Linked DNA regions of Homo sapiens. The protein of the gene in region 1 purifies or fractionates together with the protein of each later gene. This does not show direct contact. Each region holds a gene or a part of one and is shown in the gene's direction. Other genes may lie near its edges.

Region 1 (7,259 bases):
AAGAAGAAAGAAAAGAGTACATTGGCTACTTTGCTACTCTGTTTTATTTAATCCTTACAACAGCCCTGTGAGGTCAGTGTTATCATGATGCCAATTACAGAGGAGGAGAGAGAGTCAGCAAATGTTATGGAGTGAGCAGACTATGTCTGTGACAGGGGTGTAGAGGGTCAAATACCAAACCTCTACAGCTAGCTGGAACCTCACAGACCATCCTGTATCAGTTCTCTCTCCCCCGTGGGACTAACCTGGTGGTCGCCAAGCCTCTGGCTGAACCCTTTGATGATAGAAGCCTTTACTGCTTCCCAGACCAGACACCTCCCCCCATAGCCACCACCTCCAGTTCACTTATGTCACATCAGACTGCACCATTGTAGAAACTTTGTGAGTTTTATTTATTTATTGTTTAGAGACAGGGTCTCTCTCTGACACCCAGGCTGGAGTGCAGTGGTGTGATCACAGCTCACTGCAACCTCAAACTCCTGAGCTCAAGTGATCCTCCCATCTCAGACTCCCAAGTAGCTGGGGCTCAGGCATGTATCACACCTGGCTAATTTTTGTAGAGACAGTCTTGCCATGTTGCCCAGGCTGATCTTGAACTCCTGGTCTCAAGCGATCCTCATGCCTTGGCCTCCCAAAGTGCTGGAATTACAGGAGTGAGCCACTGTGCCTGGCAAACATAGGGAAATACAAAGTAGAAATTGCTAACATCCCATACTCAAGGCGACTATTTTAGTCGTACTACCCTTAGATTCTTTTATTTATTTATTTATTTATTTATTTTTGAATCGGAGTTTCACTCTTGTTGCCCAGGCTGGAGTGCAATGGCACGAACTCGGCTTACTGCAACCTCTGCCTCCTGAGTTCAAGCGATTTTCCTGCCTCAGCCTCCCGAGTAGCTGGGATTACAGGCACCTGCCACCACGCCTGGCTAATTTTTGTATTTTTAGCAGAGGTGGAGTTTTAGCATGTTGGCCAGACCGGTCCTGAACTCCTGACCTCAGGTGATACACCTGCCTCAGCCCCCCAAAGTGCTGGGATTACAGGCGTGAGCCACCCGGCCTGATTCTTTTTTTTTTTTTTTTTTTTTGAGACAGAGTCTCACTCACTCTGTTGCCCAGGCTGGAGTGCAGTGGCACAATCTCGGCTCACTGCAACCTCCACCTCCTGGGTTCAAGTAATTCTCCTGCTTCAGCCTCCCAAGTAGCTGGGATTACAGGCATGCGTCACCACGCCTGGCTAATTTTTGTATTTTTAGTAGAGATGGAGTTTCACCATTATGGCCAGGCTGGTCTTGAACTCCTGCCCTCAAGTGATCCGCCCGCCTCGGCCTCCCAAAGTGTTAGGATTACAGGCATAAGCCACCGTGCCCGGCCTGCCCTTAGATTCTTGAAGAGTTCTTACTGGAGGGGCGATAGAACGTAGACATTGACAGGACTAGTTCTGCCATCAGGCTGCCTTCGTTTGCAACCCAGGTTATTTCTGTAAATTTGGGAAAGGGCCTCAGTTTCCTCATCTGTAAAAGTATTATTTATCTCATAGGGTTGGTATGAGGAGTAAATGAGGTTATACATGTAACATGTTAGCTTTTATCATTGTTATTGTACTAGAAAGTTCCTTGTTGGACTAAGCCCTGCCTGTCTCCCCATAGCTCGTATCCAAGAGCTACTCAGCAGCCTTCACACATTGAGGTCAGCTCTCAAGCTCCCCCGCAAATTTCTGGCTCTGCTCTTCTATGTAAAATTGGATAGATAGGGTCCAGAGCAGGGCCGTTTTGGGGTGGGTCCATCAGAGAAGAAGGTGCAGAAGAAACTTTTTCCAAAGAGGGCAGCCTGACACTGGGCCCATGGGAAGGTGGTCACTGCCCTGGCTGGATGGAGACAACTTCAGGCAATCTGTCTCCCATTAACTGAGAATGCTGGTACTTACTGTCTGCGGGCCAGGAACTGTGACTTGCTTTTCTTGGCATGCGAATGGGTCTACCCACTCACCTAGACCCGTTGTAGATTTTTTTCTACGCTAAGACTTACAGTCAAGTGTCTAACCATGGAACAAAACTTCCCTTGGTGCTGAGGGCAGCTGGTCTGTCTTGAGAGTGTTTCCAGTATGTCAGCTTTTTCTAACTGTTTTTTCTTTCTTATTTTTATTTATTTATTTATTTTTTTGAGACAGTCTCGCTCTGTCGCCCTGGCTAGAGTGCAATGGTGTGATCTCGGCTCACTGCAACTTCCACCTCCTAAGTTCAAGCAATTCTCATGTCTCAGCCTCCTGAGTAGCGGGATTACAGCCATGCGCCACCATGCCCAGTTAATTTTTGTATTTTTAGTAGAGACGGGGTTTCACCATGTTGGCCAGGCTGGTCTTGAACTCATGACCTCAGGTGATCCGCCCGCCTCTACCGCCCAAACTGCTGGGATTACAGGCGTGAGACACCGCTCCCGGCTCTCTGTTTTTCAAATGGATTTTTTTAGTCTGTGACATTGATTTAAACTTACTGTTAAAAAATATATTTCTTTGGCCTGCCCCCTGTGCAAGGAGGAGGTTAGTATTTTACATTTTATAGATGAAGAAACCGAGGCTTAGAGGGATGTCTGGTTCATAAAATCACAAAGTCAGTTAGTGGTGGGGCTAGAGTGAAAAACCATCCATCATTTGGATCATCAGCTTGTGTACCCTCTCTGCCTTCTCCCTAACTGGGTCACTAGACTGTGTGCACATACACTTACCCAGTGAGAGGGGCAGCAGCTCAGAGCGGAGCTTCAGAGTCCCGGCCCTGGGTTCAGTTCTGGCTCTGCACTAACTGGCTGTGTAACTGTGGGTGAGGAACTTATTTCCTCCTTTGTTAAGTGGAGTGTGTGACACGTTCCTCCCAGGGTGTGTTGATGAGATGAAATCACACCTGTTAAGTCCCCAGCAGAATGCCAGGCCCATGGGAGCCTGTGGAGAGGACACATTTTCTCTGTCCCTGCTCTCCACATGGTCACCACTCTTGCCATCGTGGAAACCAGCCTGGTGAGAACACCAGATACTGACATCAAATGTCCCTGTGGGCACGAGCTGTAAGGCTGTGAGCATCAGTGGGAGGGGGCATCAGCTGGTCCTTCTTGTATCTAGACCACTTAGCCCCTTTCCCTGTCCTCTCTCCTGCAGATTGTAATGTAGCAGACCCAGCCATGGCGGCCCCACAGCTGGGTCCCGGCCAAACCACCCAACTGCCCCTCAGCGAGAGCAGCGTGCCAGGCGCCCCGCACGGCCCTCCTCCTGGCCTTCGGCCTGATGCCCCTGGGGGCGGGGGCGGGGGCGGGGGCGTCCCCGGAAAGCCTCCCTCGCAGTTCGTATATGTCTTCACCACCCACCTGGCCAACACGTAAGTGCCTGGTGGGCAGGCCAAGTCTCTCTCTCTCTCTGCCCAGCACCTCTCAGCCTGGGGTTCCGAGGGAGCCCCGTGCAGGGGCAGGGTGGGGTGGGTGAGGGTGGGGCTCCCTCCTGCTCACCTCTCTGAGCTGTCGGTGCCCCCACTCTGTGCAGGGCTGCAGAGGCAGTGCTGCAGGGCCGGGCCGACTCCATCCTCGCCTACCACCAGCAGAACGTGCCCCGGGCCAAGCTTGACCAGGTGAGCGTGGCGCCTCTGTGAGCAGCAGGACTGGGTGGAACGTCCCCTTACCTGTCTCATGCTCTCTTTGTCCTTCTGCAGGCCCCTAAAGTGCCCCCCACCCCAGAACCGCTACCCCTGAGCACGCCGTCAGCAGGCACCCCGCAGTCCCAGCCACCTCCACTGCCGCCGCCGCCACCCCCGGCCCCTGGCAGTGCCCCGCCTGCTCTGCCCCCAGAGGGGCCTCCTGAGGACAGCAGTCAGGACCTGGCCCCCAACTCGGTGGGAGCTGCCAGCACAGGTGGTGGGACTGGGGGCACCCACCCTAACACCCCGACGGCTACCACCGCCAACAACCCTCTGCCTCCTGGAGGAGACCCCAGCAGTGCCCCCGGCCCTGCCCTGCTGGGGGAGGCAGCCGCCCCTGGAAATGGGCAGCGCAGCCTGGTGGGCTCAGAGGGCTTGTCCAAAGAGCAGCTGGAGCATCGGGAACGGTCCCTCCAGACGCTGCGAGACATTGAGCGACTGCTGCTCCGCAGCGGAGAGACTGAGCCCTTCCTCAAGGGGCCCCCAGGAGGAGCGGGTGAGGGGGGCCCACCAGCACAAGCCCCCCCTCCCCCCCAGCAGCCACCCACGGCCCCTCCCAGCGGGCTGAAGAAATATGAGGAACCCTTGCAGTCCATGATTTCACAGACACAGAGCCTAGGGGGCCCCCCGCTGGAGCATGAAGTGCCTGGGCACCCCCCGGGTGGGGACATGGGGCAGCAGATGAACATGATGATACAGAGGCTGGGCCAGGACAGCCTCACGCCTGAGCAGGTGGCCTGGCGCAAGCTGCAGGAGGAGTACTACGAAGAGAAACGGCGGAAAGAGGAACAGATTGGGCTGCATGGGAGCCGTCCTCTGCAGGACATGATGGGCATGGGGGGCATGATGGTGAGGGGGCCCCCGCCTCCTTACCACAGCAAGCCTGGGGATCAGTGGCCACCTGGAATGGGTGCGCAGCTGCGGGGGCCCATGGATGTTCAAGATCCCATGCAGCTCCGGGGCGGACCTCCCTTTCCTGGGCCCCGTTTCCCAGGCAACCAGATACAACGGGTACCTGGGTTTGGGGGCATGCAGAGTATGCCCATGGAGGTGCCCATGAATGCCATGCAGAGGCCCGTGAGACCAGGCATGGGCTGGACCGAAGACTTGCCCCCTATGGGGGGACCCAGCAATTTTGCCCAGAACACCATGCCCTACCCAGGTGGGCAGGGTGAGGCGGAGCGATTCATGACTCCCCGGGTCCGTGAGGAGCTGCTGCGGCACCAGCTGCTGGAGAAGCGGTCGATGGGCATGCAGCGCCCCCTGGGCATGGCAGGCAGTGGCATGGGACAGAGCATGGAGATGGAGCGGATGATGCAGGCGCACCGACAGATGGATCCTGCCATGTTTCCCGGGCAGATGGCTGGTGGTGAGGGCCTGGCGGGCACTCCCATGGGCATGGAGTTTGGTGGAGGCCGGGGCCTCCTGAGCCCTCCCATGGGGCAGTCTGGGCTGAGGGAGGTGGACCCACCCATGGGGCCAGGCAACCTCAACATGAACATGAATGTCAACATGAACATGAACATGAACCTGAACGTGCAGATGACCCCGCAGCAGCAGATGCTGATGTCGCAGAAGATGCGGGGCCCTGGGGACTTGATGGGGCCCCAGGGCCTCAGTCCTGAGGAGATGGCCCGGGTTCGGGCCCAGAACAGCAGTGGCGTGATGGGCGGCCCGCAGAAGATGCTGATGCCTTCACAGTTTCCCAACCAGGGCCAGCAGGGATTCTCTGGAGGCCAGGGACCCTACCAAGCCATGTCCCAGGACATGGGCAATACCCAAGACATGTTCAGCCCTGATCAGAGCTCAATGCCCATGAGCAACGTGGGCACCACCCGGCTCAGCCACATGCCTCTGCCCCCTGCGTCCAATCCTCCTGGGACCGTGCATTCAGCCCCAAACCGGGGGCTAGGCAGGCGGCCTTCGGACCTCACCATCAGTATTAATCAGATGGGCTCACCGGGCATGGGGCACTTGAAGTCGCCCACCCTTAGCCAGGTGCACTCACCCCTGGTCACCTCGCCCTCTGCCAACCTCAAGTCACCCCAGACTCCCTCACAGATGGTGCCCTTGCCTTCTGCCAACCCGCCAGGACCTCTCAAGTCGCCCCAGGTCCTCGGCTCCTCCCTCAGTGTCCGTTCACCCACTGGCTCGCCCAGCAGGCTCAAGTCTCCTTCCATGGCGGTGCCTTCTCCAGGCTGGGTTGCCTCACCTAAGACGGCCATGCCCAGCCCGGGGGTCTCCCAGAACAAGCAGCCGCCTCTCAACATGAACTCTTCCACCACCCTGAGCAACATGGAACAGGGTGAGTCAATTGCGCAGGCAGGCAGGCAGGCAGGCAGGCAGGCGCTGAGCAGTGTGTCCATGCTGGGGCTGGGCAGTGAGTGAGTAAGGGCCTGTGTACCACGGGCCCAGAGGTGGATGGCTCTGCTTATGGGGCAGATGATGACATTTGTGGGCTTTCTCAGGGGGTACCACGTGAGTCTCCCAGGCATTTTGAGTGATCGTACTTGGGGCCTGGGATCTTCCCCTTGCCTGGGGCCCTGAGGCTGCAGGAATTGCTTGAAGACTGGTGGGCTCTGGAGATAGTGGGGGCCTGTGGGTGTGTCTGAAGGACCAGGTGATTTGGGGAACTGACCGCTTCCTAAACCTCCCCATATCCACAGCCAAACTCATCTGCCCCTCCCCAGTCACCCCTGCTCTCTTTGTCTCCCCGTTTCTGTAGGTACCCTCCCGCCTAGCGGCCCCCGGAGCAGCTCCTCAGCACCTCCCGCCAACCCTCCCAGCGGCCTCATGAACCCCAGCCTACCATTCACTTCCTCCCCAGACCCCACACCTTCCCAGAACCCCCTGTCACTGATGATGACCCAGATGTCCAAGTACGCCATGCCCAGCTCCACCCCGCTCTACCACAATGCCATCAAGACCATCGCCACCTCAGACGACGAGCTGCTGCCCGACCGGCCCCTGCTGCCCCCCCCACCACCACCGCAGGGCTCCGGGCCAGGTGCGAGGACAGGCCAGGGCCCCAGGGAGGCCAGCTGGTGTGGGCACTGGGAGCGGGGAGCACAGCTGTGGTTGTGCTGGCTTTTTTGTGCCTCTGAAGGCCCTGGGTGTGGGGGTGGAGGCTCCGGGATGCTGTTCCCACTCGCTGGAGTCATTAGGGAAACCCAGCCCAGAGCACTCGAGTGGTCTTTCCAACACCTGGTGGTGTGTCTGGCGAACTGGGCCAGAACTTGGTCTCTTGGCTTCTAGCATCAATGCCTCCAGTCCCTTCCCTCCCAGCCAGGGGAAGCCAGTGGTGAAGACTTTGACCTCTGGCACCCCCTGGCTTGGGAGTGGGGAAGGCCTGAGCCCTGCACCCTCCCCGAGCTGGGCACACCGTGCCTGACCCCCTGTCTTCTATTCCCTACAGGGATCAGCAACAGCCAGCCCAGCCAGATGCACCTGAACTCAGCCGCTGCCCAGAGCCCTATGGGCATGAACCTGCCAGGCCAGCAGCCCCTGTCCCATGAGCCCCCGCCCGCCATGCTGCCCTCCCCCACCCCTCTGGGCTCCAACATTCCACTGCATCCCAACGCAC
Region 2 (7,987 bases), on another chromosome or scaffold:
GGCACAGTGAAAAAAGCAAGCAAGATGGAGCCAGATAGACCTGGGTTCAATGCCAGCAATGATTTAACCTGTGACCTGAGGCAGTAACTTCCCCTCTCTGAGCCTCAGTTTCCTCGAGGATTGGAGGGGCCCAATACTACTCACCACATGGCATTACTTTTAAGACCTAATAGGCTAACAACAAGGACTTTGCACATGGTGGCCCTGAACAAATATTTGTTTTGACCTGGCTTCCTAGCATCCCAGGAGGGGTGACCCTCTCCAATCCCCACCTCCCTAGTGAAGTTTCAAAGGACAGGTTTTTCTGGACGGGAAGGAAGAGTTTCTCTGGGCAGGAGACGGTTAAAAGCTGGGACTACGATTCCAGCCTGGGGCTGCCCCCTCCTGGCCAGCTGTCTGAACCCCTGAATTATAGATGTGCTTGCTCCTGGCCTGGCGAGCAAGAGCTAGTAGGTGCTGGGAGCCAGGCCTAGTCCAGGGTCACCTAAGGGTAGGGCCATTGGGCCAGACGCACCTCCTCACTCCACATGCAGACACACACACCGAGTCCCCTCCCAGTTCTGACTGTGCACCCACATTCACAGATATAACCTGTACACAAAGTCTATGCACAGACCACACATCTCCAAACCCCATCTACACAGCAGACACACACACAGCAAGCACACATCGAAATCACAAAGAAATCATCAGATGACACATACTGAGACATACTTAGACCTCCCCTCCCCATCCAGACACACGCAGGCAGGGTGGGCAGAGGCTCCCAACATAAAGATACAGCCACAGTCATAACTGTCATAATTAACACATATGGAGCACTTACTCTGTGCTAGGTATTGCTCTAAGCCCTTTCCAGAGAACAGTTTATTTAATTATTATGTAATAGAGATAGCTACAATTATTATACCCCCATTTTACAGATGAGGAAACTGAGGGAAGGAGAATTAAAATAAGATGCCTGAGGTCACACAGGTGTCCTGGCACAGCCTCAGGCACAGATACCCACCCCCTCGCTCTTGTCCCCCATTTACATAAACACATTCATTCAAACGCAGCATCCCCCAACCCCTGACCTGCCCGCACACACTCAGGGTGAGCGCTCTTTGGGGGACTGTTGACTAAAGACGCAAGAAATGGCCTATTGGCCAACGGGTGGTAAACTGTAACAAGAGCCGGTCCGGTGGCCCGGCGCGGTGGCTCACGCCTGTAATCCCAGCACTGTGGGAAGCCGAGGTGGGCGGATCACGAGGTCAGGAGTTCGAGACCAGCCTGACAAACATGGTGAAACCCGGTTTCTACTAAAAATACAAAAATTAGCGGGGCGTGGTGGCGCTCGCCTGCAATCTCAGCTACTCAGGAGGCTGAGGCAGGAGAATCGCTTGAACCCGGGAGGCGGAGGTTGCAGTGAGCCGAGATCGCACCATTACACTCCAGCCTGGGCGGCACAGCAAGAGTCTATCTCAAAAAAAAAAAAAAAAAAAAAAAAAAAAAAGCCGGACCGGTGAGAAGACTAGACCTCCTAAAGGTGGAGGCGGAGCTCAAAAGCCGGACGCTACTGGACGAGGCTTAAAGCGCTCGCCCCAGCGCGGGGCCGGTGAGGAACGTTCACCGTGGACCATGGTCGAATAATGTTAGCGTGCACTCGGGGCCTCGCCCTAGCCTTCTGCAAAGCCTCGGCCTGCGCCCTCGGCTGCATCCGTTTCGACGCCAACCAACCTCATGCTCTTAGTAGAACGGCAGTAGCGACCGCGCCCTCAGGCCCACAAGCCCGAAGGTCTGGGCAGGGTCTGGAATGGCGGTGGAGACACTTTATCCGCAGGCGTTTCACCTCGCGCCCCACCCAGGCGCACACCAAGTTCTTGGTACTCCTTTTAATGGGAAAACAAGAACAGACACCATGGTTGGATAAATGTTATTTATAATTCATGGGCCGGTCTTTGAACCCTTTCAAACAAAACCCACAGCGATTTCTTTGAAAGAATGCCTGGACTGTGCTCAGAGCTCTCAGATTTTCTCAGGACCAACGAGCCGCCGCCTCGCAGATACCACTGTAAATTACCCAGCGCCTTACGTTCGTTTCTGATTATTTGCATTGCAGTGGGTTTGTTAATGAAGGACAAGAGTTTAGAAAAATCTTTTATTTTGGAAGTTGGACACGCAATCGACCCCAGCAGTGTTCCTAAAAGGAGCTATGCCATTTGGATGGGGGAAAAATGAGGGGGCGGGGAAGTCCATGTTACATTTAAAACAACAACAGCAACAAATTAAAAGCAAAACAAAACAACAAAAAAAAGGAAGTGGAGCAGGAGGAGGAGGTGGTGGTGGAGGAGAGGGAGGAGGGGCAGCAGCAGCGGCAGCAGCAGCAAGGATGGAGTCAGGACCCGTCCCAGTCCCGGGTGAGCGCTTTTGGATCTGGGTTCTGGCTCAACCCACGTAATGCCCCAATCTAAAGTTTTCTACGTGTGTGTGGATAGGAAAGTCTAAATAGAGTTTATCAGAACCCAGGTGGTCATTCTCTACACTCTCTCTAGCTTGGACCCGAAGAACAAAGGCACATGAGAGGAGAAAGGTGACCAGCTGGACGATGACGGTCACGTCCAAACGGATCCCCCTTGTCCTCGGCTCTCTCGTCCTGAGAGTGGGTTTAATTTTTTTTTTTTTAATTTATATAAGAAGGGAGCTCTTAAAGGAGAGCCATCTCCACCCTCAGGTATCCATCACCCAGCTCCAGCGCGCCTGGGAAAACCGCCCCGAAAGTCCAAGAGGAAGCTCAGAGTTGTAACGGCCGCGGAGCCAGCTCGGCGGTGACGCAAGGTCCAGTCCAGATTGCCAGGCCCGGGGCATGAGAGAGGATCCTTGTAGGTTTCGGAGGTGGGGGGGCTGCACTCCATTGTTCACTCCGGGCCAATCAGGGTTGGCCCACTTCCTCCCAGCCAATCTCCCTTCACCCCCAGCCTCCAACCCAACCCACCCCGCCCATCAGCCCCTGGATCCCCATCACCTCCCCCGCATCCCCGGCAGTTCTGGGGAAGCTTCGTGACGCCACAGGTCCCGCCCCCAGCTCCGGCCCGGGGCTAGTGCGTGTTGACGTCATGCTGCGTGCGGGCCGGTGCGGAATCGCTCCTTCAACTCCGCGGGGCAGTAGGAGTTAGTTAGCAAAGAGCCGAGGCCGGGCGCGCGACCCTCGTCCTTCTGCCCCTGGCCGCACACTTTGCGCACATCTCTTTTTCTGCATGGTGGATATTATTTTTCATTATCCTTTTCTGGGTGCTATGGGTGATCATTCCAAGAGTAAGTATTTCTGTGTGTGTGTGGGGTGGGGTGTGTGTGTATGCTTAATATGCAAAATTTCTAATGCAGAAAAATGTTTAGTGGATTCTACAAGTGGCTTCTATTTGTCAGAATAGTTTAGGAGAGGAAAAACGAATGCATGTCTCCTGCAGGACTGCTTATCTTTGGGAATCCTGTTGTTTTATTTTATAAGTAAACACTATTTCTCAAGCCGGCTAGGATGACTTCGGGCTGCGAAATCTGCTTCTGTTTTGCGCAAAGGCAATTAGGTTTGATTTAGGGATGTGGGTTTTTTTTTTTTTGGTTGTTGTTTGTTTGCCTTTCGGTTTTTCAAAGCTAGGAAGCTTTCTTTCGCTTGCTCTGGGATATTTAAACTAAGAAATGTCTGAGAGGATGAGCGGGGACTGCCGAAAGACGATGTGTCTGTGTTGGGATAGGAGGCAGCCGCTGTGAGTGGGAGTGTGTGAGCGGAAATGCCAGGACAGCACCGTTAGGTGTTGATATCCAGGCGTCCGCAGTGCCTGTGTATTTACTCTCTTCTTAGTTTCGTGTTTGCGTTTAGTTTCAAGACACGTCGACAAAACGACTGTCATTAATGAATGTAATAACGAAATATTTGGGGTGGGGGACAGAAGAAACCTTCAGCAATCCACAAGATACTGGTTTTTCGTTTCCAATGCCCTGGACCTTTAGAGAGCTCATCATCTTTCCTTATGGTCGCAAGTCTTGAAAGAAAGAGCAAGAGAGCGAGCGGGTTGGGTTGGGGCTGGAGTAGCCGAGGCCGGCCTGGGTCCGGGCAGTCAGGCCTGACGCGGCCCCGCGCCCTTCCCCGGCAGAGAAGCCCGGGACGGCCATGTGCGTGGGCTGCGGGAGTCAGATCCACGACCAGTTTATCCTGCGGGTGTCGCCCGACCTCGAGTGGCACGCGGCCTGCCTCAAGTGTGCCGAGTGCAGCCAGTACCTGGACGAGACGTGCACGTGCTTCGTGAGAGACGGGAAGACCTACTGCAAGCGGGACTATGTCAGGTGAGGCCGGCGGGAACGCGGGCTGGGCCACCGCGCGCAGGGGCCGGGGCCGGGACTGGGGATGGCGGCCTGCCCGCGCGCCCCGGCCCTGCCCAGGGAGAAGGCCATCCGCATCCCGCACGGGTGCCGCAGCGCTCCCCCGGGCCCGGGAATGCCCGCAGGCGGGTCACCGCAGTCTCCTGGTGGCCACAAAGTGTCCTGGGCGCGCGCCGGAGCCGTAGCAGCCAGGGAGATGAGGGCGGCCGCAGGCCCAGCGCTGACACCGCCGCACCTTGGGCCCGCAGGCTGTTCGGCATCAAGTGCGCCAAGTGCCAGGTGGGCTTCAGCAGCAGCGACCTGGTGATGAGGGCGCGGGACAGCGTGTACCACATCGAGTGCTTCCGCTGCTCCGTGTGCAGCCGCCAGCTGCTGCCTGGGGACGAGTTCTCGCTGCGGGAGCACGAGCTGCTCTGCCGCGCCGACCACGGCCTCCTGCTCGAGCGCGCCGCGGCCGGCAGCCCGCGCAGCCCCGGCCCGCTTCCCGGCGCCCGCGGCCTGCATCTGCCCGGTAAGCGCGCCGGGGCCTGTGCCGGGGTGAGCGGGGTGTATGTGCGTGCGTGTGTGTAGGGGTACGCTTGTGTCCCTAACGAGAAGTTGTCAGTTGTGTGTGGTTCCGTCTGCCGGGATAGTGTTTTTCTGTATCAGTGCGGAACTGTGTGCTGGGAACAAGGCTGTGTGTATTCTCGTGTGCTCGGGAGAAACTGCGTGTGTATGAGTGTGTGAGCACGGAGAATTGTGCAGAATCGTGTTCTCCATGACCAGGAACATGCAGGGCACAGTGCTAGGAGCAGAAGAGTGGATGACAACAGGGAATCTTAAGTGGTGTCCGTCTTGGGGCTTGTATTAGGAATTTCTTGGAGGAATATGTGTTATTGTCAGAGGGTAAGGTTTGCCCAGGGGTATGTGTGTAAGTAACACAGCTCCAAACTGGGAGCTGGGCAGGAGCTTGGTCAGCCAGGAGCCAAGAACCCAACAAAGAGGGGTTTTTGCCATCTTGTTTTGAGGCCCAGTTTGATGAACAATTTAGCCAGGTTCTTCTGGGGGAGGGGGAGTATCAATGCATAGTGGACTGTCACTGGAATATTCTGGGTCCTAATCAGCAGCTGCCCAGAGATGGGGTCTGAGTGTATAATGGGCAGGTACGGCTGAACAGAAACAGAGGTGCCTCCACCCCAGGCAAGGCAGTTTCCCCCAGGTAGCCATAGGCCTGCAGCACAGATCCGTAGACCAGGCTGGGCCTCTGGGTGCTGTGTGGCCTTGCCCCGCTCCTCCCCTCTCTGGATCTTCACTTCCTCCCTATAGAAAGAGGAAACTGGGCTGGATGGGCTATTTGTAAATATTTGTCCAGACCTAGAAATTCGTAGAGGGGAACATAAACCGAAATGGTGCAGTACAGATCCACGGTATATATGGGTCGGGATCAAATGGAGATGTGAAATGGGAGCAAGCGGGTATTCAGTGCACCCCCATCTGGGATCTCGGAGAGGCTCCCCTTTGTTTGTTTCGGGCTTCAGGGTGCAGGCTCTGGAATCAGTCACTGTTTCCCCGGGATGGAGAGAACCTGGGGCCAAGCGAGGAGAGTGCCAGCGGCTGCTCAGCACCTTGGTCGGTGGGAGGCCACTGGGCTGGGGAACCTGGAGCCTTGAGGAAGGAGACAGGGGCCGAAGCCCAAGGGCGGGCAGGAAGGAACTGTTGCAAGCCCTGGAGGCCCGTCCATAACCGTGGATGAGTCTTCTACACATGTGGCCTGGCCCTGTCCAAATGGGCTCTGAAGGAGGGGAAGGGCCCTCGTAGGCCCCCGGCATATTCGCACCTCCCACCCAGTCCCCTGGGCAGCGCCTCGCCCTGGGTCCACGTCGGTCCCTTTCCCTCTCCAGAGTCCTGGGCAAGCCTCTTTCCTCTTCCTCTGAAACTCCGACTTCTTCCGGAGGGCTTCGCTCGTTCCGAGGGTCCTGCGACTGGAGGAGGCACATCCCTGAGCAGCCACTCCCTCCCCGCAGCGGCCTGTCGCCGAGCTCCCGCGCCCTGCTTGAGCTCGGGAGAGATCGCTGCGGGGCAGTCCGGCCCGGGAGCGAGAGAAAGAACGAAAATGCACAGCTCTCTCCGAGTAAGGCGAACAGATGGAGAGGAAGACGAACAATTAAACGAAACAAACAGAATAAAACAGAAACGAAATCGGGCCCCGGGGGGCTGGGCCACCCGGAGGTTGGGCTCGGGGCGGGTGGGTGGCGGCCCCTCGCTAACCTCTGGCCTCACCCTGTCCTGGCAGACGCTGGGTCGGGCCGGCAGCCCGCGTTGCGCCCGCACGTGCACAAGCAGACGGAGAAGACGACCCGCGTGCGGACTGTGCTGAACGAGAAGCAGCTGCACACTCTGCGGACCTGCTACGCCGCCAACCCGCGGCCCGACGCTCTCATGAAGGAGCAGCTGGTGGAGATGACCGGCCTGAGCCCGCGGGTCATCCGCGTCTGGTTCCAGAACAAGCGCTGCAAGGACAAGAAGAAATCCATTCTCATGAAGCAGCTGCAGCAGCAGCAGCACAGCGACAAGACGGTGAGCAGCCGCTGGGCCGGAGGCTCGAGTCGGGTGGGGGCTGCGCTTCCGCCGCGGTATCTGCGTGCCCTTTTCTGGGCGAGCCCTGGGAGATCCAGGGAGAACTGGGCGCTCCAGATGGTGTATGTCTGTACCTTCACAGCAAGGCTTCCCTTGGATTTGAGGCTTCCTATTTTGTCTGGGATCGGGGTTTCTCCTTGTCCCAGTGGCAGCCCCGCGTTGCGGGTTCCGGGCGCTGCGCGGAGCCCAAGGCTGCATGGCAGTGTGCAGCGCCCGCCAGTCGGGCTGGTGGGTTGTGCACTCCGTCGGCAGCTGCAGAAAGGTGGGAGTGCAGGTCTTGCCTTTCCTCACCGGGCGGTTGGCTTCCAGCACCGAGGCTGACCTATCGTGGCAAGTTTGCGGCCCCCGCAGATCCCCAGTGGAGAAAGAGGGCTCTTCCGATGCGATCGAGTGTGCGCCTCCCCGCAAAGCAATGCAGACCCTAAATCACTCAAGGCCTGGAGCTCCAGTCTCAAAGGTGGCAGAAAAGGCCAGACCTAACTCGAGCACCTACTGCCTTCTGCTTGCCCCGCAGAGCCTTCAGGGACTGACTGGGACGCCCCTGGTGGCGGGCAGTCCCATCCGCCATGAGAACGCCGTGCAGGGCAGCGCAGTGGAGGTGCAGACGTACCAGCCGCCGTGGAAGGCGCTCAGCGAGTTTGCCCTCCAGAGCGACCTGGACCAACCCGCCTTCCAACAGCTGGTGAGGCCCTGCCCTACCCGCCCCGACCTCGGGACTCTGCGGGTTGGGGATTTAGCCACTTAGCCTGGCAGAGAGGGGAGGGGGTGGCCTTGGGCTGAGGGGCTGGGTACAGCCCTAGGCGGTGGGGGAGGGGGAACAGTGGCGGGCTCTGAAACCTCACCTCGGCCCATTACGCGCCCTAAACCAGGTCTCCCTGGATTAAAGTGCTCACAAGAGAGGTCGCAGGATTAACCAACCCGCTCCCCCGCCCTAATCCCCCCCTCGTGCGCCTGGGGACCTGGCCTCCTTCTCCGCAGGGCTTGCTCTCAGCTGGCGGCCGGTCCCCAAGGGACA
Region 3 (7,259 bases), on another chromosome or scaffold:
AGTCTCAAACTCCTGGGTTCAAGCAATCTTCCTGCCTCAGCCTCCCAATTAGCTGGGACTACGAGTGTGCAGTATCATGCCTGGCTAATTTTTATATTTTTTCTTTTATAGAGATGGGGGTCTCACTATGTTTCCTAGGCTGGTCTCGAACTCCTACCTTCAAGCAATCCTTCCTCTTCAGCTTCCCAAATCACTGGGATTTCAGGCATGGCCTAGTTTTGCCCTTTTTATCCTTTCTACATGTATATATGGAATCATATAGTATGTATCCTTTATGTCTGGCTTCTTTTTGCTCAGTTATGTTTATGAGATTCAGCCATGTTTTAGGTGGAAATATAGATCATGCTCATTGCTATATGGCATTCTATTGTGTGAATATGTAATTTAACCATTTTGATGGACATTTGCATAGTTTCCAGTTTTTTGGCTATGATGTTGCTAATAGTGCTGCTGTGAACATTCTAGTATGCAGTTCTGTGGGGCACATTCCTAGGAGCAGAATTGCAAAGTCATGGGATATGCACATCTTCAGATTTGATAGGTACTACCAGACAGTAAGCCAAGTGCTCATACCAATTTACCCTCCTGTTAGCAAGATTAGGACAGTGTTTTGTTTTGTGTCGTTTTGTTTTGTTTTTGAGACAGAGTCTCACTCTGTTGCCCAGGCTGGAGTGCAGTGGTGCAATTTCAGCTCACTGCAACCTCCATCCTTGGGATTCGAGTGATTGTCCTGCCTCAGACTCCCGAGTAGCTGGGATTACAGGCGCATGCCACCACACCTGGCTAATTTTTGTATTTTTAGTAGAGATGGGGTTTTGCCATGTTGGCCAGGCAGGTCTCAAACTCCTGACCTCAGGCAGTCCACCCCCCTCAGCCTCCCAAAGTACTGGGATTACAGGCATGAGCCACCACACCTGGCCAAGATTATGACAGTTCATTGCTGTTCCACATCCTCACCAGCGCTTGGCATTTTATATTGATTTCATTTTAGCCATTCTAGTGGGTGCAGAGTAATAGTAGTTCCCTGTATATTTTGTTTGCATTTCTCTAATGCTAATGAGATTGAACACCTTTTCATACTTTTTTTTTTATGAGACAGAGTCTCACTCTGTTGCCCAGGCTGGAGTGCAGTGGCATGATCTCAGCTCACTGCAACCTCCGCCTCCCGGGCTCAGGCAATTCTCCTGCCTCAGCCTCCCGAGTAGCTGGGATTACAGGCGTGTGCCACCACACCTGGGCTAATTTTTGTATTTTTAGTAGAGACGGGGTTTCACCATGTTGGCCAGGCTGGTCTTGAACTCATGACCTCAGGTAATCCGCCCGCCTTGGCCTCCCAAAGTGCTGGGATTACAGGCATGAGCCACCATGCCCAGCTTTCATACTTTTTTATAAGAGATAGGGTCTTGCTATGTTGCCCAGGCTGGCCTCATACTCTTGGGCTCAAGCAATCCTCCTACCTCAGCCTCCTGAATAGCTGAGACTACAGATGTGTGCCATTGAACCCAGCTACCTTTTCATACCTTTAAAGACCGTTAGAATATTCCCTTTCATGAAGGACCTTTTTAAATCGTTTGCCCATTTTTCTACTGGATTATCTGTCTTCTTCTTACCAATTTATAGAACTTTTTAGTATTGCAGATAAAGTTCCTCATCGGATATCTTCTCTCCTTCTATTGGGTACCTTTTTATTGTCTTAATGGGGGTCTTTTAATGACCAGAAGTTCTTAGTTTTAAAATAGTCCAGTTTATCCATTTTTAAATTGTTAGTGCTATTTGTGTCCTGCTTGAGAGATTTTTGCCTACTGCAAGGTCACAAAGATGTTTTCCTCTAAAAGCCTTTTGGTTTTGCCCTTTTGTTTTAGATCTGCAGCTCATCTGGAATTGAGTGTGTGGTGTGTGTGTGGTGTGAGGTAGGGGTCCTTTTTTTCATATGGATATCCAATTGACCCAGAACAGTGTATTGAAAAAAAAAATCTGTCTTAGTCAATTTGGACTGCCGTAACAAAATACCATAACCTGGGTGGCTTAGACTACAGAAATGTAGCGCTCACAGTTCTGGAGGCTGGAAGGCCAGGATCAAGACACCAGCAGATTCGGTGTCTGGTGAGGACCCACTTTGTGGTTCATAGATGTCACCTTCTTGCTGTGTCCTCAGTGGTGGAAGGGGCAAACTAGCTCCCTTAAACCTCTTTTTATAAGATCCCTAAAACCTTTAATGAGGGCTCCACCCTAATGATCTAATCACCTCTCAATACCTTATCTTGGGGGTTAAGATTTGAACAGAGGAATTTGGGGGAGACATAGACATTTGGAGCATAGCATCTTCTTTTCCTCAGTGCACAGCAGTGCTGCCTTCATCATCAGTCAGGTGTCTGTAGGTGTGTGGCTATTTCTGGACTTGGCACTCTGTCCTACTTGTTGATTTCTCTGCCTTATACCAATGCCACACCATCTTAATTATTGTAACCATCTTAATTATTTATAAAAAGTCTTTTTTTTTTTTGATACAGTCTCACTCTGTCCCCCAGGCTGGAGTGCAGAGGTACAGTATTGGCTCACTGCAACCTCTGTCCCCAGGCTTAAGCAATTCTCATGCCTCAGCCTCCTGAGTAGCTGGGATTACATGTGCACCACCACAGCCAGCTAATTTTTTGTATTTTTTGTATTGGGGTTTTGTCATGTTGGCCAGGCTGGTCTCAAACTCCTACTCTCAAGCAATCCACCCACCTCAGCCTCCCAAATTGCTGGGATTATAGGCATTAGCCACTGCACCCAGCCAGACTTTATAGAAAATCTTGATATCTGGTCATGGAAGTCCCCTAGCTTGGTTATTTTTTTTTGGTACCGCTTTGTCTATTTTCGGCCCTTTCCATTTCCATGTAACTTTTAGGATCAGCTTGTCAGTTCCTACCAAAAGGAAAAAAAAAAAAAACTCCTGGGATTTGAATGGAATTGCAGATATCCCTCTGTTTGTTTAGGCTTTACTGCCTCTCAGTAATGTTTTGTAGAGGTTTTTGGTTTTTTGGTTTTTTTTCTGAGGCAGAGTCTCACTCTGTCACCCAGGCTGGAGTGCAGTGGCGCGATCTCAGCTCATTGCAACCTCAGCCTCCTGGGTTCAAGCTATTCTCGTGCCTCAGCCTCCCGAGTAGCTGGAATTATAGACATGTACCACCACGCCGGGCTAATTTTTGTATTTTTAGTAGAGACAGTGTTTCACCATGTTGGCCAGGCTGGTCTCAAACTTGTGGCCTCATGTGATCCTCCCGTCTTGGCCTCCCAAAGTGCTGGGAGTATAGGTGTGAGCCACCATGCCCAGCTTGTTCTGTAGTTTTTGTGTAAAGATCTTGCATATCTGTCATTGGAATTTTTTCCCTAGGTATTTAGTGTTTATTGATGTTATCGTAAATTACACTGATGTTTTAGGGTGGTTTTGTTTTTTTGTTTTGTGTTGTTTTCCTGTTAGCTGCTGGTATTTAGAAATGTGATTGATCTTTTTCGGATTTTGTTCTAATAATCTTGTTAAAGGGTTAACCCCTTACTAATTCTAATAATTTGTAGATTCTTTCTTAATATTCTACATATACTATTATGTTACTTGTAAATAGTGATTTTTTTTTTTTTTTTTTTTTTGAGACAGAGTCTTGCTCTGTCACGCACACTGGAGTTCAGGAGTTCAGTGGTGTGATCACAGCTCACTGCAGCCTTGAATTCCTAGGCTCAAGATATCCTCCTGCCTCAGCTTCCTGTGTAGCTGGGACCACAGGCATGTGCCACCACACCTGGCTAACTTTAATTTTTTGTAGAGTCAGGGGTCTCACTATGTTAGGCTGGTCTTGAACTCCTGGGCTCAAGTGATCCTTATGCATCAGCCTCCCAAAGTGCTGGGATTACAGGTGTGAGCCACCACACTTGGCCTTCTTTCTTTTCTTTCCAATCCATTTGTTTTTTATTTCTTTTCCTTGCTTTATTGCACTGGCTAAGATTTCCAGTGCTGAATAGGAGTGATGACAGTGGGCATCCTTGTCTTTCTCCCAACCTCAGAGGGAAAAGTATCAATGCATTTGTAGATATTCTTTATCAGATTAGCTTCCTTTCTAGCAGCTTGTGTCTTTGTATTGTTTTTCATGAGCAAGTGTTGAACTTTTTCACTGAGTTTTCCAAATACTTTTTCCATTGAGTTTTTTTACTTTAACCGTCATATTGCCAAAAGTCTGCATTTGTTATTTCCTCCAAATCCTCACAGGTGGTGCCTGGTTTCCTTTTATTTTGGTGATCTTGGTTCATTCGAATCTGCAGGAAATCTGGGGATCTAAATCCAGAATGATTCAGAGAGCTGGAGGAAGGGGGCTGCCCTGGCTTAACTTGGCTCATTCCCAGGCCAACACCTCACCGTGATCCACGTCCCCACTGCTGTGCTGAAGCTGGCGTCTGCCCCAGGGAACCCTGCCGGTCACACATGCTCAGGATTTCATGGGCCTGTGTCTACCCTGCTTTTTTCTTTATTCTTTGTAGTTGTTTAGGAGTGGGGGGCCTCGCAGAACACCTAGTCCAGCCCACTGCCCAGAGCAGGTGTGTCCCTTTCATACTTCAGTCCACTTTAAAACAGCCTTCCCCCACCCCCTTCTATGGTAGCAGTTCTCCTCGGGGTCTCCATGGACACCCTGTGCCCCAAGCCGATGGCCCCACCCAGCAGCATCAGCACAGCTGCCCCCCTTCTCCGCAGAGCAGGCTCTCCTTTACGGGACTCTCCTCTTCCCTCCCACCTGATGCGCATCAGCAGCCACGGGCCTGGCCCTTGAATCTTGTCTAACTGCACTCGCTGCCTGGTGGCCTCATCCCACCCCAAGACCACTGCACTGATGGCTCCAACCCCAACTTCTCCCTGCACTCAGCTTATGAATACGACGGCCCTCATTGCATCCATGCAGAGACCTCAGAGGCAGCTCAGCTCAGTGCTCAGCGTGGCACTCGGGGCTTCACACTTCCCCCGTGTCCTGTCTGAGAAAACTGTGACACCATCAACCCAACTGCTCAGACCAAACACCCAGCTGCCGCCCTTAGTATCTCTTTTTCCCCTCGGTGGCCATATCCAGGCCGTCAGCAGTGAGTCCTGTGGTCAGTCTTCAAAATGCGCAGGGCTGGGCTGTCAGGTGGGTCAGCGTTCACCGTGTGCACTCTGGGCTGCTGTGTGCTGCTGCAGACACTCAGCGGCCGTGGCCCTGGGGTAGGGGGGGTGGGTGCTGGGCAAGGCGCTGAATTGAACCGCCCCCCTGCATGCCAGCTCTGTGACCAAAACTGTTCTCTCCTCTCCTCCTTGCTGCCTGCCGGCCCCTCTGTCTGCAACCGCCTGCTGGCCTCTGCATGGCAGAAGTCCTCCAGCTCTGCATCTTCCGAGGCCTCGGAAACCTGCCAGTCCGTTAGCGAGTGCAGCTCCCCCACCTCGGTCAGTGCTCCCAGCCCGGCCCCAGGACAGTCACCAGCTGCCCCTCCCATCCATGCCCTCCCCACCTGGTGCCATTACTGCACAAAGGGCCTGGGTTCAGCCAGGGGTGCGTGCACACAGCACCTGTCCCCAAGAGACAAGCCACCTGGCCATTTCCTACAGTCACTGCCCACACAGCCACATCTTACCCCTGGGCCTGGTGGGACTGAGGGGCCACAGTCACACTCCATGCTCTGCCCTTGGCTGTGATTGCGAACCAGAGACCCCCTGATAGCCCTGGACACCCTGAGCCTCAGCCACAGTGACGGGCCCCCGGGCCATAGGTGGTAGGGCCAGTGGTCCCCCTGACCTGCCACACCCTCCCTGCAGGACTGGTCCAAGGTCGGCTCCCATGAGCAGCCCTCAGGCGCCACTCTGCAGCGGAGGAAGGACCGAGTGGAGCTCCTGCGAGACACAGAGCCAGGCCCTGCCAGTGGGGGCACCCTGGGCCCCAGCGGGGAAGAGGCACCGCGACCCCGGATGTCCCCTGCCACCATCGCAGCCAAGGTAGGCTGGCCAGGGCCCCCCTTCACGCCCAGGTCAGTCCCAGGAGGCCCAGCCAGTGGCCTCAGGGCCGGCTCCAACCACCTGGCAGGGCTGCCTGGAATTTGGGCAGAGGGGATTGGGGGCGCAAGGCTTCAGCCTGCACTTTCCCACCCTCAGCACGGTGAGGAGGTGTCCCCCGCCGCCAGTGACCTGGCCATGGTGCTGACGCGGGGCCTGAGCCTGGAGCACCAGAAGAGCAGCCGGGACTCGCTGCAGTACTCCAGCGGCTACAGCACGCAGACCACCACGCCCTCCTGCTCTGAGGACACCATCCCCTCCCAAGGCAGGCCCGCGGGGCTGGGGTGGGACCAGGGACAGCTGGGACTTAGCCATCCAGGAGGGCCCCGTCCTTCCCCCTCTGTGCTCACCCTGGTGGGCTGGGGGCAAGGGGCCACCTGGGCCCTGGGCCTCACTGTGTCCCGTGCCCCCAGGCTCCGACTACGACTGCTACTCCGTGAATGGGGATGCGGACAGCGAGGGCCCGCCCGAGTTTGACAAGTCATCCACCATCCCGCGCAACAGCAACATCGCCCAGAACTACCGCCGCCTGATCCAGACCAAGCGCCCAGCCTCCACTGCTGGGCTGCCCACCGCGGGGCTGCCCACGGCCACTGGCCTGCCCTCGGGCGCACCCCCCGGCGTGGCCACCATCCGCCGCACACCCTCCACCAAGCCCACCGTGCGCCGCGCCCTGTCCAGCGCTGGCCCCATCCCCATCCGGCCGCCCATCGTCCCTGTGAAGACGCCCACGGTGCCTGACTCCCCCGGCTACATGGGGCCCACACGGGCGGGCAGTGAGGAGTGCGTCTTCTATACCGACGAGACCGCCTCACCCCTGGCACCGGACCTCGCCAAGGCCTCCCCAAAGAGGCTCAGCCTGCCCAACACAGCCTGGGGCAGCCCATCCCCAGAGGCAGCCGGGTACCCCGGGGCAGGGGCCGAGGACGAGCAGCAGCAGCTGGCGGCCAACCGGCACAGCCTGGTGGAGAAGCTGGGGGAGCTGGTGGCGGGTGCCCACGCACTGGGTGAGGGCCAGTTCCCCTTCCCCACTGCTCTGTCGGCCACCCCCACGGAGGAGACGCCCACCCCACCCCCAGCCGCCACCAGCGACCCCCCGGCCGAAGACATGCTGGTGGCCATCCGGCGTGGGGTCCGGCTCCGCAGGACCGTCACCAACGACAGGTCGGCGCCCCGCATCTTATGATGGCGCCACCCTCCCCATCCTCTCAGG
Region 4 (7,259 bases), on another chromosome or scaffold:
GACTGACCTTGGATGGGTCACTTAGGCTTCTGGACCCCGGTTTCCCCTTATATGAGATACTGGGGCCATCCCAGGCCCTTCTCTGATCTCACCATTTATTCAGCCCCGACTGAAGAAGTGCAAGCCACCGCCAGCCCTTAGTCATTCTCACCCCAGGAAGCTCTGGGTAGATGGTGCCCCTGGAGTGATGGCTCTGCAGGCTCTGTACTGCCAGCCCTGAAACCTCCCTCTTTGATTTGCCAGGCTCCAGAAGCCTAGGGGTCACTGTGCTGAGCAGCTGAGTTTGGAAGAGTAGATTGCGCCCTTAGTAGGCATTACTGGCATTCTCAGTCCCTTAAGGGGCCTCCAGCAGGTGAGCCCAATGGTCTAGAACAAACCATGGATCTGCTGCCCAAATTAGCTTCATTATCTTCTCCAGCCCCCAGTTTCCTCCCTCTCCTCCTATCCCTGGCACCTGTTTTGTGGGAACACAGAGGGCAGGGCAGCAAAGTTGAGTGGAAAGAACTCGGGTGTTAGAGGTAAACATCTGGGTTCAAGTTCTTCATGGCCTTGGACAACTGGCCGAATGCCCCCCCTTAGTTTTTACATTTGTAAAATAGGTGCAGTGACTTCCTTCTGGGACGATTGTGCAGGCTTTTGGTGATGTATGCACGGAATCTGTGCTCCAGCCCTGCTGCTGGGAAGAATAAAACTGCTAGCACATGTCTTTCCAACCCACCGTTACCTTCATGATGAAAAGACCTGGCTTTGAATTCTCTTCAAGCGCTCCTGAGCGGGGTGACCTTGCACTATGTGAGGATCTGTAAAATGGGAATAGTCATAGTACCTAGCACACAATGCTCAGCCTCATGGGTATAAAAGGCACTCAATAAATCACTTGAACCTGGGAGGTGGAGGTTGCAGTGAGCCGAGATTGCGCCACTTCACTCCAGCCTGGGTGACAAAGGGAGACTCTGTCGGCAAAAATAAAATAAAGGTACTCAATAAATGGTAGTCATGAAAAGTACTATTGATGATAATAATAGTCGTGATCTAAATTTCTGCACCGCTTTCCGGCCTGCTGCCCAGAAGGCACACTATGCAGTTTTCGTGGTCTTTTCATTCAAGAGGCATTCTGGGGGATACCTGCCCCAGGCTGGGCCCATGCTGCTGCTGGGATAGGCCCCCGGGAGCAAGGCAGAGCCATTCCTACCTATTGCACAGGAGAGTTCTTGTCCTCTACTGTGTCTGTGTCACAAGAGTTAGGGCCCTCTTAAGGCCCCTTGGGTAGGTTTTTCTTTAACGACTATTGCTTTCTTTGGATTGGGAAAAAGTAGGTGCTTGTCACACAGGCAAGCTATGTATGCCAAGTGAGTGGCAAGCAAAGGGCATTTCTGTGTTGATCTGGGATGCTCTGCTAGGGACCTGGTCAACCATGCTCCCCCATCCCATCCCCCACCCCACCCCATAGGTGCAATGCACCAGCCCCTCAGCTCACCTGGCCGGTCATCCTCAATGGGAGAAGTCCCAGCCTGCTCTGGTGCACTCTGTGCTGCTGCAGGTGTCTCAGGGTCAAAGGAGGTGGAGCAGTCATATCTTCAAATTATTTAAATGTCACTTTAGTTCAGACTTTGAATCAATGCCATTCTGCGCCTCTAGTGGGCTGAGAAAGTACATCAGACAGCTTGGGTTCAAATCCCTGCTCTGCCACCTACCAACTGTGTGACCTCAGACAAGCCTCTGTGCCTCAGTTTCCTCATCTATAAAATGAGGATAAAAATAGTTCCAATTTCATAGGGCTAATGTGAGAGTTAAAGGGGCCTAGCATGTAATTGAGGTTTGATAATGGTAAACTATATTAGGAGTGTACAAACCTAGTATCATTTATGATCATAAAAGGTTGGTAACTACTTAAAAGTGCATCAGTAGAGATGCAAAGATAAAACGTGCTATATCCATGAGCTAGAATACCATCAAGATGGTAAAACTGTGTTCCATCTTCTATCACAAGCATATTAAATAGCTAAAGCTGGTTTGCAAAATAGCATGCTCAGGCTGATTTTCACCTGATTACAAACGAAGGATGAAAATATGAGTCTGTGTAAGCTCAGAAATACAGCTGATAAAATGTCATTCCTTTTTTTTTTCTGCTTGTCTGTGCTTTTCTGTGCTTTTCTCTTTTCCGAATGTTCTGCAATGAACACATATTCTTGTTTTTAGTAAAAATAAAAAAACAGCAAATGCTCATTTTTAAAAAGAAGCTGCGTCAAGCTGGGGCAGCTCCAGCCAGATCCCCACATCCTGCTGCCCCATCCTGTCCCAAAGGATTCTCCTGTCCTCCTGAGGCAGGCACCAGCCTTCAGAGGCTCTTTCCCCACTCCTGCCACAGAGGGAGGTCTCTGGATGTGGCTTTCCAGTCCGTGAGCTAGAGAACTAGAAAGCGATGAGTTTAAAATACCACGAGGGAAGGTCTGGGCAGATGCTTTCCTAGTTAAAATGTTCCTTGCTCAGCAAGTCCAGGCCCTTCCCCATCGTGCTTGCAGCCAAATAGGGTTGGGAAGAATTGTAGGCTCAAGTTCTGCAGATCCAGCATGGTCTGTACCCTAAGGTCACAGGGCACCAGAAACGTCATCCAGGTTAGAGGTGTGCCCTACAGCCCACTTCCCTGGGCGTTTCATGCATCCTCTTGCCTCCCACCGGAGGTGCAGGCAAGTCGGCAAGCAGCCCAGTTATCACACTGCCAAACAAGGAAGGCTAGAGGGACTGTGCCGTTCCCGCCGTGACACTCACGTCCTGCTTGCAAATTGTGCATCCTTTTTTCCTCGGAGAAAGAGCTGTGGTAGCGGGAATGTCAGGGGAGCAGTCTTGCTTTGCATGACTCAGTTTTCCCCTTCCTCTTGGCGATGAAGCCAGCTGTGGGTCCCTGCAGCTGCAGGAAAGGGAGCCACTGCCCCCCGAGCAGCCTGTTAGTCTGGTGGGTTCAACCAGGGAGTTGTGAGCACCCACAAGTGGCCAAAAGAGAAGACAGGTTTATTGAGAAGGCCATGTGGCTTCTGCAGGCAGGGCCTGGGTTCTAATTTGGTTCTGTCATTCACTCACTGTTGGCCCTGAGCCTTCTCTGGGCAGTAGGGGGCTTTGTTGGGGAGATCCAATGAGCTTTTATGCAGAATGCCTGAGGAGGGGTGCTGCTGGCCTGGGTAATGCCCAGAAGCCGAGGCTCTGTGGTCCCTATCCTAGAGCCCTTGTCGGGGGGGTCAGCTGGCCCCTGGGTGGAGCTGGCATCCTTTGCCCACTGACGTGACACGGGAACCAGCTGACATGACAGACTCAGGAGGCTCAGTGCCTCCAGCAGTGGGCCGGGGGCAGGGCTCGTGTGGCTGCCTCCTCCGGACTCTGCCTCTGCAGAAGCCTGCGGACCTGAGCTCCGCCACAAGCCATCGGCCTCTGCCCCATTCTCCAAACTGCAGGACTTTCTCCTCCCTTATTTGCTGGCCCAGATGCACACCTGCAGGCGGGCATGACTCTCAGCCCAGGGTCTTCTTCAGGTGGTAAAGGGAGGAGGGGCTGTGGGCAGAGCTCACCTGCCTGCTTCTGCAGCCCTGTCTCAGGCTTTCCCAGGGCTGAGGGTGGCCAGAGTTAGCAAATGAAAATGCAGAATGCCCAGTTCAATTTCGGTTTCAAATAAACATGCAATATTTGGGACATATTTATGAGAAACAATTATTTGTTGTTTATCCGAAATTCAGATTTTACTGGTCATCCTATTCTTTATCTGGCAAAGCTGCCAGAGCTACCACTTTGGAAAAACAGCAACCACCACCAAGAAGCCTTCATTATAAGGGCTGGGCATGGGAGTTCACGCCTGTAATCCCAGCATCTTGGGAGGCTGAGGCGAGAAGATCGCTTGAGCCCAGGAGTTCAATACCAGCCTGGGGAACATAGTGAGACCTCATCTCTACTAAAAATCCACAAAATTAGCTGGGTGTGATGATTCTCGCCTGCAATCCCAGCTACTTGAGAGGCTGAGGCAGGAAGATCGCTTGAGCCCAGGAGATGGAGGCTGCAGTGAGCCATGTTTGCGCCACTGCACTCCAGCCTGGGCGACAGAGATGACATGTGGATAGACAAAGCAGGGATTGAGACCTCAAGAAGGTCAGTGTCCTGACAGGCAGACAGGTGCCCTGGGCTTCTGGGGGACCTGGTCCTGGGGAAGGCAGCACTGCAGAGGTGACCTGAGGCCAGTCACAAAGCATGGGAGGGATGCTGCCAAGTGGGCAAGGGTGAAGGAGTTACAGGTAGAGAGAACAGGAGGGCAAAGAAATGGAAACCCTGGCACATGGCGTGTTTGAAAAAGCAGAAGAGGTTTGAATAATGGAGATGAAGCTCTGTGGGTAGAGGGGCCAGAAGGACCTGGGGGCTCCTGGCTGACCTGAGAACCACAGGAGAGAAGGCATGGTCCCCCCCCAGGAAGGCCATAGCTCCAGTACAGCACACGAAGGCTGAGGCCAGGGCTCGGGGCCAGAGGCAGTCACTGGAGTAGCGGGAGGAGCTGGTGCTCAGAAGCACTTCCCCAACTTGAGGGGTGGGTAGAAGAGCCCTTCATGGGTGAATCCAGGGAGCAGAGCACAGACAGACCCAGGAGCCCCTGTCCAAATGAGCCATGTGCAGACAGTGGAGATGGAGGGAGAGAGGGAAGGTTATTAGAGGGGACTCTGCAAGCCAGTAGTAATCCTGAAATTCCAGGGCAATTAAATAACTCCAAATTTGTTTTGTTCTCAAGATTCAATAGTAATTTTTTATTCTTAACAGTATAGAAGAGCTATCATTTGTCTAAGCGCTTACTATGTGCTCAAGGCTTTTCATGCTTTATGTCTTTGAATCCACATAGCAGCTCTGTGAGATAAGGAGTATTAGTCAGGATTCTGGGATTGCATGTGACAGAAACAGACCTGGCTAACTTAAGCCAAACAGAATGTATTGGAAAGGTGGGGCTGTCAGAATCAGGGGGAAAGCTCAGCACCCAGTCTTGGAAAGAACGTGGGCAGCTGGAGCCATCCAGGGAGTGGGAACTCCAGTAGGTATTAGGACATCACCAGGCAGGCAGCTGATCCATCCATTTTCAGACCTTTTAGCCACTCAAGAGTCCAGATCCAGGAGAGACTCTGACTGGCCCAGCCGGATTACCTGACCCTATGGGCCAGGTGTGAGTGGGATATTAAGATCGACGGTCCCACTGAAATCACTGGTAGTGAGAGGGATAGTTGTGGAAGGAGATTCAGGGCGCTGTTGCTGGGAGAAGGGGGCATGGAGCTTGGACAGGCAAAAACAATACATGTCTGCTACATGGATGCTGTTATTAGCCCATTTCACAAATGTGGAAACTGAGGCTTAGAAAGGTGAAGCAGTTTGCCAGGATCACTTTTGGCTCCCCTGCCTATCACTGACTGGTAATAAGGGGATAGTCACTTTCCCAGCCCCGACCTCCGTCCTGAATGGAAAAGTTGCCTTCAAGCACATAAGCATGGTATTTTCTGTTTTGTTTAATTAAGCAGAATTGCATGGCCCCCCGCCCGCTGTGCTGGCAAAGAAAGCTAGAACCCACGCGTTGGCGTCACCATTTCCTCCTCCTCAGCCAAGGTGTGAATCAGCAGCCTGTGGCTTCAGGCCACTGTTGGCTTCCAGTCAGTTCCACAGATGTGGGTTTATTGTCTGCCCTGGGCCAGGTCTGGCCCAGAGCCAGAGAGAGGCTAAGATGACCAAGCACAGTCTTGTCCTCACAGAGGTCACCATCTGTTCAGAATGCATCTCCATAGGATAAGGGCTGCGACAGGGCCTGGAGTACCCGTTCCTGCTGGGACAGAGAGGTGCACTGTCAGCTGGGTTCAAAAGCAAAGGGGTGTTCAGGGGCTGGGAAAGCTGACTAGCAGTGGGGTTCTTTACATGGGTGGAATTCAGAGGGCCCTTGAACGTAGAAGGGGAAGAATTAAATCTTAATTTTCACTAACCTCCGACTGAAATTTAGCATTGCCTTCTGTGATGAATGAAGGCAGCAACTCGCGGTGATAGTAGTAATACATGTGACTTTGTCACAAATAGCGATTCCCTTATTTTCATCTTACTTGACAGTCGTTGCGTGGATGCCTGGAGAGCATCTATACTCCTTACTATTTCCAAGTTACGGTGTCATTAGACCCACCACGAGGTTCTGTTATTTGTGGTTTTAATAAAAACGTACATATAGTCATAATTTTGTTTTTTGAAACATTTTGATAACTATAATTCAGTATCATTAGTTTCATTTGGGATCTATGTGTTTTACTCATTTTAAATCATTCTGAGAAGGGGTCCGTGGGTTTCCTCAGATGCCAAAGAGATTCATGGCTCCAAAAAAAGATGAAAGACCCCTCTGGGTGGAAGAGGTGGAACTTGGGAGCCAGATGGCATGGGCTGGACCTGGCTCTGCCATGTGTGATCTTGAGTCAGTGACTGAACCTCTCCGTGCTTCAGTTTCCTCTTCTACAGAATGAGGCTAACAAGAGTATCCACTGTGGATTATTCATGTAGAGGGTTTAGAGCCCTTCCTGGCATGTAGAAGTGCTGAATAAATTACCTGTTATTATTATCTTTACCATCATCATCATCATCATTTATCTGACTAGTGATGTGCATTTTGAGTAAGCAACCTCAAATGATGTGACACGGGCCATCTGGAATGACCACATATTAAGAAACAGACTCTAATTAAGGATGTACTCCTTAAAATTTGTAGCTGTTTTCTCCCAAAGATTTATATATTTGGATATTCAGCAGTATGGTAATTTAAACAATGTTCAAAGTAGCCTAAATGTTTATCACTGGAGGCATGATTAAATAAATGATATATATAGCCTTACAATGAACTATAAAGGCATCTTTAAAAGTGGTTTGTCCAAAGGATGTTTGATGAAGTGGAGAAATGACCGCCATCTCATGCAAATGAAAAAAACCAAATCATATATATAGTGTGATCATAATTTTGAAAAATATTTCTATGCATAGGAAAAGGGTCTGAGAAGAAGCATGCCCAAAGCATCATCTCTGATGGTGGAAACATGGACAGTTTTTAAGACCTCTGACCGTGCAGTCAGCCTGTTTGATTCCTAGGTTGAACAAGTTACCCAACCTCCTTGGGCCTTACCTTTCTCCACTGCAGAACGGAAATGATAGGGTAGTGTGACCTCATAGGATTGCTAAGATAGAGCACATTAAGCACATTCTAGACTCTTAAATGTTGTTAGTGA

What was found.
Region 2: the proteins of BCL9L (region 1) and ISL2 purify together in Homo sapiens (affinity purification with mass spectrometry, with the first as the bait; one large-scale study listed by BioGRID). This does not show direct contact.
Region 3: the proteins of BCL9L (region 1) and MTSS2 purify together in Homo sapiens (affinity purification with mass spectrometry; one large-scale study listed by BioGRID and IntAct). This does not show direct contact.
Region 4: the proteins of BCL9L (region 1) and SH3PXD2B purify together in Homo sapiens (affinity purification with mass spectrometry; one large-scale study listed by BioGRID and IntAct). This does not show direct contact.

The regions. Positions count from the first base shown.
Region 1 is NC_000011.10:118,899,341-118,906,599, reverse strand, and holds part of BCL9L (B-cell CLL/lymphoma 9-like protein), read left to right. Parts: intron 1-3,147; coding exon 3,148-3,364; intron 3,365-3,525; coding exon 3,526-3,610; intron 3,611-3,691; coding exon 3,692-5,981; intron 5,982-6,401; coding exon 6,402-6,683; intron 6,684-7,091; coding exon 7,092-7,259. UniProt on the Homo sapiens protein: Transcriptional regulator that acts as an activator. Promotes beta-catenin transcriptional activity. Plays a role in tumorigenesis. Enhances the neoplastic transforming activity of CTNNB1.
Region 2 is NC_000015.10:76,333,648-76,341,634, forward strand, and holds the start of ISL2 (insulin gene enhancer protein ISL-2), read left to right. Parts: upstream 1-3,125; 5' UTR 3,126-3,236; coding exon 3,237-3,294; intron 3,295-4,130; coding exon 4,131-4,320; intron 4,321-4,604; coding exon 4,605-4,867; intron 4,868-6,628; coding exon 6,629-6,912; intron 6,913-7,486; coding exon 7,487-7,654; intron 7,655-7,987. UniProt on the Homo sapiens protein: Transcriptional factor that defines subclasses of motoneurons that segregate into columns in the spinal cord and select distinct axon pathways.
Region 3 is NC_000016.10:70,663,650-70,670,908, reverse strand, and holds part of MTSS2 (protein MTSS 2), read left to right. Parts: intron 1-1,862; coding exon of another isoform or gene 1,863-1,946; exon of another isoform or gene 1,947-3,630; intron 3,631-4,296; coding exon of another isoform or gene 4,297-4,395; exon of another isoform or gene 4,396-4,512; coding exon of another isoform or gene 4,513-4,569; intron 4,570-5,368; coding exon 5,369-5,443; intron 5,444-5,812; coding exon 5,813-5,989; intron 5,990-6,145; coding exon 6,146-6,311; intron 6,312-6,459; coding exon 6,460-7,232; 3' UTR 7,233-7,259. UniProt on the Homo sapiens protein: Involved in plasma membrane dynamics. Potentiated PDGF-mediated formation of membrane ruffles and lamellipodia in fibroblasts, acting via RAC1 activation. May function in actin bundling.
Region 4 is NC_000005.10:172,442,070-172,449,328, reverse strand, and holds part of SH3PXD2B (SH3 and PX domain-containing protein 2B), read left to right. Parts: intron 1-7,259. UniProt on the Homo sapiens protein: Adapter protein involved in invadopodia and podosome formation and extracellular matrix degradation. Binds matrix metalloproteinases (ADAMs), NADPH oxidases (NOXs) and phosphoinositides.